Linked DNA regions of Homo sapiens. The protein of the gene in region 1 purifies or fractionates together with the protein of each later gene. This does not show direct contact. Each region holds a gene or a part of one and is shown in the gene's direction. Other genes may lie near its edges.

Evidence for each region.
Region 2: the proteins of HPF1 (region 1) and MKLN1 purify together in Homo sapiens (affinity purification with mass spectrometry; 2 studies listed by BioGRID and IntAct, with this or other methods). This does not show direct contact.

Annotation. Positions count from the first base shown.
Region 1 is NC_000004.12:169,728,941-169,734,214, reverse strand, and holds the end of HPF1 (histone PARylation factor 1), read left to right. Parts: intron 1-2,338; coding exon 2,339-2,511; intron 2,512-4,505; coding exon 4,506-4,637; 3' UTR 4,638-4,745; downstream 4,746-5,274. UniProt on the Homo sapiens protein: Cofactor for serine ADP-ribosylation that confers serine specificity on PARP1 and PARP2 and plays a key role in DNA damage response.
Region 2 is NC_000007.14:131,393,637-131,400,935, forward strand, and holds part of MKLN1 (muskelin), read left to right. Parts: intron 1-3,630; coding exon 3,631-3,740; intron 3,741-5,601; exon of another isoform or gene 5,602-5,604; coding exon 5,605-5,797; intron 5,798-7,299. UniProt on the Homo sapiens protein: Component of the CTLH E3 ubiquitin-protein ligase complex that selectively accepts ubiquitin from UBE2H and mediates ubiquitination and subsequent proteasomal degradation of the transcription factor HBP1.

The DNA of each region.
Region 1 (5,274 bases):
CACTGATTTTTCTGAAGAAAGGAATGTCATGAAGCTCATGTAAAATAATTTAATTTGTAAAAGGTTTCAAACCAACAAATATGTCACTACTGTTTATAGATAGTTAGAAACGTAGGTGGTGCAGTTTGCCATTCGTTCAATGCGATACTGGTCCACCAAAAGTGGGAAAGGGAACAACACATTTTGTGACTGGGGTAACAGCATGTATTCTGTACTGTCGTCAAGACTGAACCAAATGTTATTCATAGACTGGGGTTAAAAGCACTAGTATATAGTATATTTTTAATACCATCCTTGGTAATTTTTTTTTTTTTTTTTTTGAGACAGGGTCTTACTCTGTCACCCAGGCTGGAGTGCAGTGGCATGACCACGGCTCACTGCAGCCTGCACCTCCTGCACTGGGTGATCCTCCCACCTCAGCCTCCCAAGTAGCTGGGACTACAGGTGTCCACCACCAAGTCCAGCTAATTTCTCTATTTTTTGTAGAGACAGGGTCTCACCACATTGCCCAGGCTGGTCTCCAATTCCTGGGTTCAAGCAGTCCTCCTGCCTCAGCCTCCCAAATCCTCCCACTAGGATTACAGGCGTGAGCCACTGCGCTCAGCCCGTCCCTGGTAATATCATACCTGATATTTTTCGTTAGTCTCATCAGAACGTTGTGCCTCATACATAGAATTTAACATCACCTATCATTCTTGAGTATAATTGTTAATGTTTTAACCAGTCTTCCTCTCCCCCAGTATGGCAGCCACCTGTTTGGAAATGTTTTGTTGGTTTGTTTGAATAATATCCATTCTTTTCATTCTCAAAGAAGTACTGTTTGTTAAAAAGGACATACAATTTGTCAAAAGGAAGTCTAAATAGATATTGTTCATACTTCCATCTCATTTGCGTCCTGAAATCGGATGTACATTAACATCCAGAAAGAATGAAAAAAATCTTGAAAGCCAAAATTGAAATGTTAATTTGTAAAAATATATTCTTTAGGTAAATATTAGACATTTTCTCTCTATTCTTACCTCAAACGCATGCTTGCCATGCCTACTCTTCTCCCAATTTGGTGAAGGTTTTAGTTAAAGGTTTAATTCTGCAGTGATTTCTTGTCTCTTACATTGTTGTCTTTTTCTGGGTTTAGTTCACCACAAGTCACAAGTCAGTAATTTTTTTTAGCAAACAAGGTAGGACAGGGCAAAAAGAATAAATTTTGCCTACTTGGATTATTTTTTAATCCAGTTGTCTTAGTATCAGGACCTCGAAGGATACCCAGAATCTGATGCTCAAGTCCCTCAAATAAGTTGGTGTAGAATTTGCATAACTTACGCACATCCTCCTGTATATTTCAAATCATTTCTAGATTACTTAGAATACCTAATATAAAGTAGACACTATGTAAATAGTTGTTATACTGTATTTTTAAAATCCGTATGTTTTATTTTTTTCCTGAGTATTTCAATCCGCACTTGGTTTAATCGAAGGATGTAGAACCCTCAGATACAGAGGCAACTATATAGTGCATGAACCAGGCTGGCAGACTTTCCATGTACAGCCAGATAGTAAATGTTTTACACTTTGTGGGCTACATAATCTATCACATTCTTGTTTGATTTTTCAACCATTTAAAAATGAAAAAAACTTAGTTTGAGGGCAGTTAAACACAGGGTGAGCCAGGTTTGCCCAAAGTTTGCCAACTCCTGGACTAGTCTGCTGAATCTTTAAAGCTTATGTAAATGCATGATGACCACCATGGAATAGACTTTTTAAAAAAATCATGACTGTATCTGGGCCCAGTGGCTCACGCCTGTAATCCCAGCACTTTGGGAGGCCGAGGCAGGCAGATCATGAGGTCAAGAGATCAAGACCATCCTGGCCAACATGGTGAAATCCCGTCTCTACTAAAAATACAAATATTAGCTGGGCGTGGTGGCATGTGCCTGTAGTGCCAGCTACTTGGGAGGCTGGGGCAGGAGAATTGCTTGAACCTGGGAGGCAGAGGTTGCAGTGAGCTGAGATCGCACCACTGCTTTCCAGCCTGGTGACAGAGCAAGACTCCGTCTAAAAAAAAAAAAAAAAAAAAAAATCGTGACTGTAACTAAATCCTGTGAAATAGTCGTTAATAAAGAAATACTTGTTAACCTGTTTTTAAGCTTGAATCCTAAGTAGAAAAGTTACCAAATTGCCATTCTAAATTAGAGTGCTGAAGACTACTACCCAAGGTGGCACAAGTTGTATTAGTACAAAGTCTTAGGAGGAAAAACCCTCTTTATAATCTTCTTACTTTTGAAGACTGATTCATTTTCTAACTATGTAGATAATCTTTTATATTATTGATTTCTTTCAGCTGACCTCAAGAGAATTTGCAAGACAATAGTTGAGGCTGCAAGTGATGAGGAGAGACTAAAAGCTTTTGCTCCCATTCAGGAAATGATGACTTTTGTGCAGTTTGCTAATGATGAATGTGATTATGGCATGGGGCTTGAATTGGGAATGGATCTCTTTTGCTATGGCTCACATGTGAGTAAAAAAACCCTCCACCTTCTACCCACTGCCACACCTCCCTCCTCTCCCCGCGACATACATCCACACATGAATACGTGCACATTTATACCCCCAAATTCCAGCAGAGGTAAGACAGGGATTCAGCTTGTATTTCAAAATGAAGTTTTTGAAGTGATTTTTTTTAACGTAGATGTCCTAAAAATGTTTTAAACTCATCTTATATTCTGGCAAAGGTGAATATTTGCATTCACTCAAAGGTGAAGATTATTTGCATTCAGGCTTACATTAAAGTGAATTTACTCATTAGACACATTATAGGGACATGCCTTCTTGCCGTGTGTGTACGTTTGGGGCTAGGTATGGGGGTGTGTGCACACACCTTAGGCTCCATTTCGTTTCCATTGTGGTGGGGGTATTTGTTATTGTGCTTAAATTCTTAGATGAAAAATGCACTTTAAATTATTTAAGCTTTATAAGAGATGCTGTTTTACCGTTAACTAATTGCTCATTAAATAAGAAAATTTTACTTAATAGCTAAACCAGTGCTTACTCGACCATAGTTGCCTGAAGATCAAAGAGGCAATAAGGTGTAGCGGATATGACCTGTTTCTGGGGCCAAACTGGTTGTAAATCACATCTTCCCAGTGTGTAAGATCGGGCAAGCTTTCCAACACCTTTGCATCTGTTTCTTTACCTGTAAGATATGTGTGCACATGTGCACGAGTGCATACCCACACGCAGATCATTTAATTCTCATTTAACCTACTTTGTAACCAAGTCACAGAGAGGCAAAGCATCTTGCCCAGGTTCACACAAGCAGTCTGGCTCCAGAATCAGTGCCTAAATCAGTGCAGTAATTCCCAAACTAAAATGCATATGACTCACCTGCAGACATTGTTAAAATGCACTCTATCGGTAGGTCCAGCATGAGATCTGAGACTGCATATCTGTCATGCTCCCAGGTGACGGTCATGCTGCTGCTCTACAGACCACACTGGGAAAAGCAAGACCAAACCAGTAGCTCTCCAGCTTTAGCGTGCATCAGCGTCAATGGGAAGGCTTGTCCAAACGCTCACTGGCAGTCTTCCCACCCTCCCCAAGTTTGATTGAGTTCTAGGGTGGGTCCTGAGAATTTGCATTTCCAACAAGTTGCCAAGTGAAGTTGATGCTCCTGGTCGGGGGTGTACATTTTGAGAACCCTGCTATAAACCATATTATACTACTTTTCTTTGCCCACCTCATAGATAGTTATCAGTAAAAATAATCAAAATGCTTAACAGCCAGAATGACAGTCATTGACCAATCCAAATAGTACTTGACCTGCTAGAGAGGCCCTAGCCATAAATAAGTAGAGCCATAAGATGTGAACCAGTGAATAGCAAACTTGCTTGTTGTGAGAATGAAATAACATGTATGAGTTATAAAAAGGTTTAGCACAGTGCTTACCGCATGTTAAGGGCTAAATGTTTATTATGATCAGCAAAACGGTGGTATATGTAGATAATAGCAGTAATCTCAAATCTTTTGATAAGCCTAAGGCAGTGACTCTTAACAGGGATTGGGAGGCGGTACGTGTTGGGGATGGGGGAGAGAAGGAATTTGAGGATAAAGGCAATACGATCTGAAAACTTTCAGCATAGCTATTCTTACAGAATTGAGGAAAATAAAGCTTAAACTTTTGCCTGGGAATACACTGGAGAGAATAAAAAGTATTTGTGGGCATTGTTTGGGGTGAGAAAAAGTTGATAAAACCTAAGGGAATAAGGAAGCTCGATTTAATTTGGTTTTCTTAATTTTCAAGATATGCCATTAGTCATCTAGAGCAACAAGACTGCCTCTTAGAATGCCAGGCGCCTGTCCTTAAATTATGTTCACTAACCACCTGAGGGTGTAGCTAAAATGATTTTGGAAGTAGCCTTTGTTAAACAAGTGCTTTGTTGATATATTTTCTGCTACTTATTAGGATATCTGCTATATTCTCTGCTTAATGTTATATTTTTATTTTTCAGTATTTTCATAAAGTTGCTGGCCAGCTTTTACCTCTTGCATATAATCTGTTGAAGAGGAATCTGTTTGCAGAAATTATTGAGGAGCATCTGGCAAACAGAAGTCAAGAGAACATAGACCAACTTGCTGCATGAGTAAGGTGGCTTTGATTGGTGTACAGTATTTCAAAGGACTAGTATTAAACTTGTGATTTTTGTTTTGTTTTTAAGGAATACAAAAAATAAACATTTACTAAAAACGTTTATAAGGTTCTTCTGCCTGGTTTTCCTTCTTTAATGTGCAAAAAAATGGCAGTCAAATCACCTAAATGGTGACCCTAATCACATTTTGGAGGACAATTAAAGTCACCCTCTGATATGTCACAGGAAGCCACTGTCTAATGCCTGTGGCTATAACTAGACCATCCTTACAGAGTCCTGTTTCAATATTTATCATATGGGCAACTAAGAATATTTCTTCTGAGTCTTGAGTTAATAGCTGTAGCTTTAAGGATCGGGTTTATGGCAGGAGAAGAGGGGAACAGAAGGAAACTTAGAAGGAGACTCATGACACTGCAATAAGCACTCTTCCAGGGTGCCTGACCCCGACCTACCCAAACTGCATTTTGAGTAGTAGCTCCAGGTGACTCCCAGTAAGTAGTCCAGTTATCCCATTAGGTATATTATTTTAAATCTTCTCTTGACTCAGTCATTTACTAATACAGTCTAGTATATTGATACATAGTATATAGTTTTAGTATAAGATAGTAATCAGTATACCATTACTTTAGAT
Region 2 (7,299 bases), on another chromosome or scaffold:
TTTTTTAAGAGACAGGGTCTTTCTCGGTTACCTAGGCTAGAATTTAGTAGTGTGGTCATAGCTCACTGTAACACTGAACTCCTGGGCTCAAGTGATCCTTCATCTGGCCTCCCAAGTAGCCAGGACTACAGGCACATACTATCATGCCCAGCTGATTTTTAATTTTTTTTTGTAGAGATAGGGTCTCACTATATTTCCAGGCTGGTCTTGAACTCCTGGGCTCAAATGATCCTCTTGCTTCTGCCTCCCAAAGTGTTGGGATTACAGACATGAGCCACTGCACCAGGACCAATAAATGAATTCTTAATGAGACTTGGACCTGGAAATCTCTAATATTTTATGTCTGGTGACATATATAGACTATATTCTTGGTGCTTTTAGTTTAGAATCATTATTTTATTCTGACTCTTATACTACTAGATGGTTATTGCTATGTGATTTAGTAGATAAACTTTTAAATGACACTGCTACATAAAGAAACACTAAAACAATAAAGATAATTTAATATTTGTTGTTAAAAAAAAACTTTTTGAAATGTGTGTTGTTTACATACATAAACAGAAAGGCATATTAAATATCCCAGCATTCCTTCATACATCCTTATGGCTGGTTGCTACTGCCTGTGTTTTTATTCACACAGCTTCCTTTATATCAGTGGTCCCCAACCTTTTTGACACCAGCGACCAGTTTTGTGGAAGACAGTTTTTCTGTGGACCCAGAAGTTGGGGCAGGGTATGGTGGAGAGATGGTTTTGGGATGAAACTTTTCCATCTCAGATCATCAAGCATTAGATTCTCATAAGGAGTGCACAACTTAGATCCCTTGTATTTGCAGTTCATGATAGAGTTTGCAGTCCTTTGAGAATCTAATGCCAACGCTGATCTGACAGGAGGCAGAGCCCAGGCAGTAATGCTCCCTTAACACACTGCGCACCTCCTGCCATGCGTCTGGGTTCCTAACAGGCCAGGGACCTGTACAGGTTTGGGCCTGGGGGTTTGGGACCCCTGTTTTAGATGACAAAAATATATAAAAGTATCATACCCCATACATTTTCCTTATTCAGTCGGATATTGGAAATCATTACGCCTGGTATCAGCTATTCTGGATATTCTATTTTGATGCTTCATCAAAACTCTACAAATGTTAGTTTCTTAAAGATAGTTGCATTATTGATTCTGAAACTGCATCAGTGAATCTGTTGTTACATTAAAATTCACTGGTCTATCTTGGACTTTTTACCCAGTGGTCTGTCTTGGACTTTTTACCCAGGTGTGATTTTGTAACATTCATTGGTTATTTAGAAAATATGGTTCACTGAATTACACAGATCTCCCAAATGTTGAAACACTTCATTATGTAATATTTTAAAAATCACATTTATTAATATCACATCTAATCTCATTTAAAAAAATCTAAGTGTTGGGAATCAGTTAAGCTCACAGTGGTGGGTACTTATCTTCCAAAATTCTAATTTTTCTCTTGAAAGCTTGGTTTTTATCCTTGACAGCAAATATCGTTAAGTATTTTCCTTGAAATAACATGTAAATGTTTGGCAAATACCCAAATCTGAATAATCATAGGTTGTCTGTTTTTCTTTCAAGAATAAAATGGCATTCCATGAAAAATAAATTGATTTTTAAACTCACAACTTAAATAATTGTACAGGTCCTTTCCTTGAGATAACCATTGTGGTTTGGTACACAACAAAAATGCTTTATATGCAAATCTCATTTTGTCACACAGGATACTAGACAGATGTGTACTTGATGGGAATTTAATAAAATTAATTTTTCTGTGCCATTGGTAAAAATTATTTTTATTTTATTTTATTTTATTTTATTTTATTTTATTTTATTTTATTTTACTGCCAGTGTATGGTGGTGAGGCATACAGTGCACCTTGTACTTACTGAGCACTAATAGTACTTTTTGGTGCCATTAGTTTGGTACCAAGGTGCTAGCAGTTTTACACACCATTGCTTTTGTACCATTAGTGCAATGTTGCTATTATTAAAAGGCTAGAAAAGTGTTTATTATGTTATTTTGAAAAATAGTTGTTTTGAAAAATAACTAGTGTTGTTATTAAAAAAAAAAGTAGTTTTGACTACGTGGGACCTCTGGAAAGACCATTGGGATTTTGATTGACATGATGTTAAATTTATAATTAATTGGAGAGAGCTACACATTTACAATATTGAGTTTTCCTATATAGGAACATAGTATGTTCTTTCATTTATTCAATTATTCACTAAAATTTTATATTTTCTTATAAATATTGCGTATTTTAAGTTTATTCTGAAGTATTTTCAGCTTTTTGCCATTATAAATAGGACTTTTTTGAGGTATATTTTCTAATTGGTTATTGTAGGTATAGGAAAAGTTGATTTTTGTGTGTTTACCTTGTTTACAAATAAAAAGTTTTTCAATTGAATATATATATATATTTTTTTCCACTGAGACACAGTCTTATTCTGTCGCCCAGGCTGGAGTACAGTGGTGTCATGGCAGCTCACTGCAACCTCCACCTCCTGGGTTCAAGTGATTCTCTTGCCACAGCCTCCCAAGTAGCTGGGATTATAGGCGCACGCCACCATGACTGGCTATTTTTTCTATTTTTAGTGGAGACAGAGTTTCACTGTGTTTGCCAGGCTGGTTTTGAATTCCTGGCCTCAAGTGATCCTCTTGCCACGGCCTCCCAAAGTGCTGGGATTACAGGCTTGAGCTACTGCTCCTGGCTCTCTTGAATTTTTTTAGGTAGACAGGTCATCTTTAAATTACAATTCGTTTTTCTTAATTTGTTTGTTTGTTTCCTTATTGCACTGGTTGAGACCTCTAATTAGTGACAAATAGTAGAGATATTGGACATCTTTGTCTTGTTCTGACTTGAGTGGGAATATTTAGTATTTTCCCAGTAGGTTTAATTTTTAAGGTTTTTGATGCTTTTTAAAAAAATCTAAGGAAATTTTTTATTGCCTTATATTGCTTATATATTGAGGGTTTAAAAATAATAATGTATTTAAGTCATCAAATGTGTTTTTTCTTTTATTTTGTTAACGTGGTAGATTATATTAATATAGCTCCTATTATTTATTGAACCATCATCTTTCCATTCCTGGAATGAGATCTGTTTGGTTACAATGAAAATCTGATAGAATTTTTTGCAACTTTTCTCCTTTTAATTTGTATTTAAATATGTATTCATAGCTGTGATTGGCCTTAAGTCTTTTTTCTTCTGATTTGGATTTCAGGGTTGTGCCACTGATAAATAATTTCAGTCTCTTTCAGTGTTCTGATGTAGACTAAATTCTAAAGTAATTTTTTGCTGCTTGTACATTTGATAAAATTTACCTGTTAAATCATCTAATTCTGGTGGCATTTATTTGGGGGTAGACATGTGCACATTTTTAATTTATCTTACAGTGTTTTTATTAACTAAGGAAATCTTATGGTGGCATGGGTCATCTGTTTCGTTTTACTGTTGTAGCCTTAGCACCATGCTAGTCATATAAAAGATGCCCAGAAAATTCGTTGAATGAATCCTTATAAGGTTGAATAGTGCTTTTACTTTGCTAAAGTTTTATTTGAACTGTGTTAATATTTTTCTTCTTCTTTTTGTTTTTTCTCCTTAAAGTTCCACTCTTGTCCTGGGGACCCAGCTTTAACTTTAGCATCTGGTATGTTGAACTTAGTGGCATTGATGATCCTGATATAGTACAACCTTGTCTCAACTGGTATAGCAAGGTAGGACTGTGTTTTAAATCCTGACTTTAATGCCTATAAAAGGAGAAATATGTCAATCTCTTATCTTCATTGAGAATAATTTAAAATATTCAAAATAATAATAACAACAGTTAGCTAACATTTTATTAAGCACTTCCAGTCTGCCAGCTTTTAAGGAATCCTGATAACTCACTTAGTCATTATCACTCTATGAGACAGGTGCACTTATTATCCCCATTAGTTTATAGATGAAGAAATGAAGAACAGAGAGATTAAATAGTTTGCCTAGGATCACACAATTGTAAAGTGTTTGAGCCAGTATATGAATTCAGGCAGTTTGGCTCCACAGTCTGCTTTTATGTTATTATACCCATTTGACTCTGAATTTTGTTTTTTCACTTGTATTCATATAAATACTTAAAACATAGTTTTTAGTGGGATAGTTTTGCAGCCTAATGGAAAATTTAAGATGTGGATGTGATTTAGACTCCTAAAGTAGTCAACAGGGTTAAAAAATACTGCTGTTTAATATAACTGTAATATATATTGTTACATGGTAGTTATGATAAGTCTTTTTTAGAGGCCAAGAGTAAGTTAATTATAGTTAACTAATTATAATTAAGTTGTTAATTAATTATAGTTAATTATAACGTGTAAGGATTAGGTGTTTAATGACCTTTTATTAGTTAAGTCAGCTATCAACTGATTTGTTTCAAATCTTATACATCTTCCTAAACACATTATTTTCTTGCCTTATTAAAGGGTCATGCCTATAAGTAAATCATTGTTGTTTGATTATCATGCAGGCTTCCATGTCATCTGTTTGTTTGAATAGTGGTATACTTAGGAAGTTTGAGGTAGTCCCAGAACATATTCCTGAAGTTGAGATTTTTTTAAAAAAATCCTTTTTATAAGATTGTATTTTTGGCATCTATCCTATTAGGGGAAAATTTTAATAAATTAAGTGCCTGCTTTTTGGATTCCAGTTAATTGAGATGTCTACTTTATAGCTGCTTAATAGATGAGGTAGTTCAGGCTTAGAAAACAATTAAATTGGGCCGGGCGCAGTGGCTCACACCTGTAATCCCAGCACTTTGGGAGACCAAAGTGGGCAGATTGCCTGAGGTCAGGAGTTCAAGACCATCCTGACCAACATGGTGAAACCCCGACTCTACTAAAAATACAAAAATTAGCTGGGCGTGGTAGCGCGTGCCTGTAAGCTCAGCTACTTAGGAGGCTGAGGCAGAATTGCTTGAACCTGGGAGGCGGAGGTTGCAGTGAGCTGAGATTATGCCGCTACAGTCCAGCCTGGGAGACAGAGCAAGACCCTGTCTCAAAAAAAGAAAGAAAAAAAAAAAGATTAAATGTCTCTTTTTGATGATTTTTGAGTCATAAAATGTGTTTGTAAATTTGAAATATCTGTATACTTGATACTTGTCATTCAAGTAATAGTTTATTTTTAAAAACCAAAAATAGCATAATATAATTTATGTGGATTATTTAATGTTCTTTTGTGCTCTCAGTACCTGCATTGTAATGGGATTAATAGATGCTATGGAGTTATAATTTTTACAGTATTAAGTGGAGTTTAAGAAATAGATGTTCTCCCTTTCTTCAAAGTTGAGGCTCTGGAATTAGGTTTGGTTTAATAACTTTTGGCTACATATTTTGTGACCTTGAGCAAGTTATTGGAACAGGCCAAGCTTTAGTTTTGCTAGTTAAAAGAGCCAAATAATGATACCTAATGAATCAGGTTAGTAAACTGCTTGGCACATAGTGTTAATAAATGCTCAGTGTAGATTAGTTATTTTTACTGTTGTTATTGTTTCCTACAGTATCATCTAACCAAATCTCTTCTTTCCATACTTACTCTGTGTTCTAGTAGTACCGTGAACAGGAAGCTATTCGCCTTTGCCTAAAACACTTCAGACAACACAACTATACAGAAGCTTTTGAGTCACTGCAAAAGAAAACCAAGATTGCACTGGAACATCCCATGTTAACAGATATTCATGACAAGCTGGTGTTGAAGGGTGATTTTGATGCTTGCGAAGAGTTGATTGAAAAGGCTGTAAATGGTATGAAACTTAGATTGGTTATTAGGGTAAATTCAAGTACATACGGGAAACTTTTTCTCAAAAATAATATAGGCTTATGCCAGTTATTACTGTAATTTTTTTTCTTGGTTTTTTACTCGGTTAAAGATTGTTATCTCTTTGGATTAGGGACTTCTTTCATGTAAAATAGATCCATGATGTAATGAGACTTAAAAAATTGAAATGTACTTGAACTCACATATAAATTTAAGTTGTCATCTTGGGAAACCATGCACTTACAAATGATTAACTAGCATTAAACTGTATCAGAAATAATATTTTGATATTGGTAGCCAATATTCATTAACAGTGTAGTTTTGAGGAGAAGGGGGGCTAGATAATAAAAAATGTTATTAGTAAACAATTATATATAAGGAACAAGGAGATTTGTATTGAAAACAACTTCCTTGTGGTGTGAATGCTATATAATTGCTGATTTTCTTGTGTGACCTGTAGTCTGGCTTTGAAAGAAATGTGAATAGTTGAACATCTGTATTATCTCCCAGGGTATTGGCTTTGGAGGGTAACACTCATTTGGATTTTTAAGGTCTGATGTGTTTTGTTATTTAAACTAAAAAGGGACTCTGTTGTTGCTTATAGTATGACTTTTTTTTTTAATCTTCCTCAGTAACTTTCATAGTGACAAACAACAGAATAGTTGCACAATATAAAACTTGTGGAATTGAATTTGGTGCATCCTTTATAGGAAGAAATAAGAAATAATAGATTATTCAGTGGTTTGCTCTCATTTTAATTTTATCACTGTTATTATCGTCTATTATTAGGTATTCATATTTATCAGATATTGGGTAGCTAAAAAAAAACCAGACTTGTACTGCCTTGAGTTTATAAATTTAAAGTTAACTTAAAATGAATTGCTTTGAGCTCCACTTTTTGAAATATGACAAATCTGCTTCTAAGCCTTGTGCATTGTTATTGCTTACTTGATTGATGATGATACTTGCAAATAAATGATAGGTATGTTTGAAATTGAGTATATTTTGGAGTATAAACAAACAAATAACTAATCTCTTAACAGACTTTAAAATGCTACCAATAAAAAAAAAATATATATATATATATATATATGCCATTTCTAGGAGTGAATTCTGTGGGTTTTTTTTAACCTCATAAGATGAGGGAGGCATAGGTAATTTTAGGGCTTTTTTGTTTGTTTCAGATATTTATCAGTAAGGCATTTGATACCATTTTGTGAAGGGAAAGCAAAACAACAGCCACAGGCAACTCTACAGTTAATAAGCTAAAAACAGTTATATTTTAAAGGTCTCTTTAGTGACGTACTCAGTTGGTTAAGATTAGCTGATAAAAATCTTGTGCAGTTTTGATATCTACAGAGACTTAACTTATCCTTTGGCTCTAGAAAGGAACCAAGTTTAGAGAAATTAGTAGTTGCTCAATTCTTGAAACTTACAGCCACATCATAGTTTTTGTACTGTGAATACTATGGGCTTTCTAAACTGGCC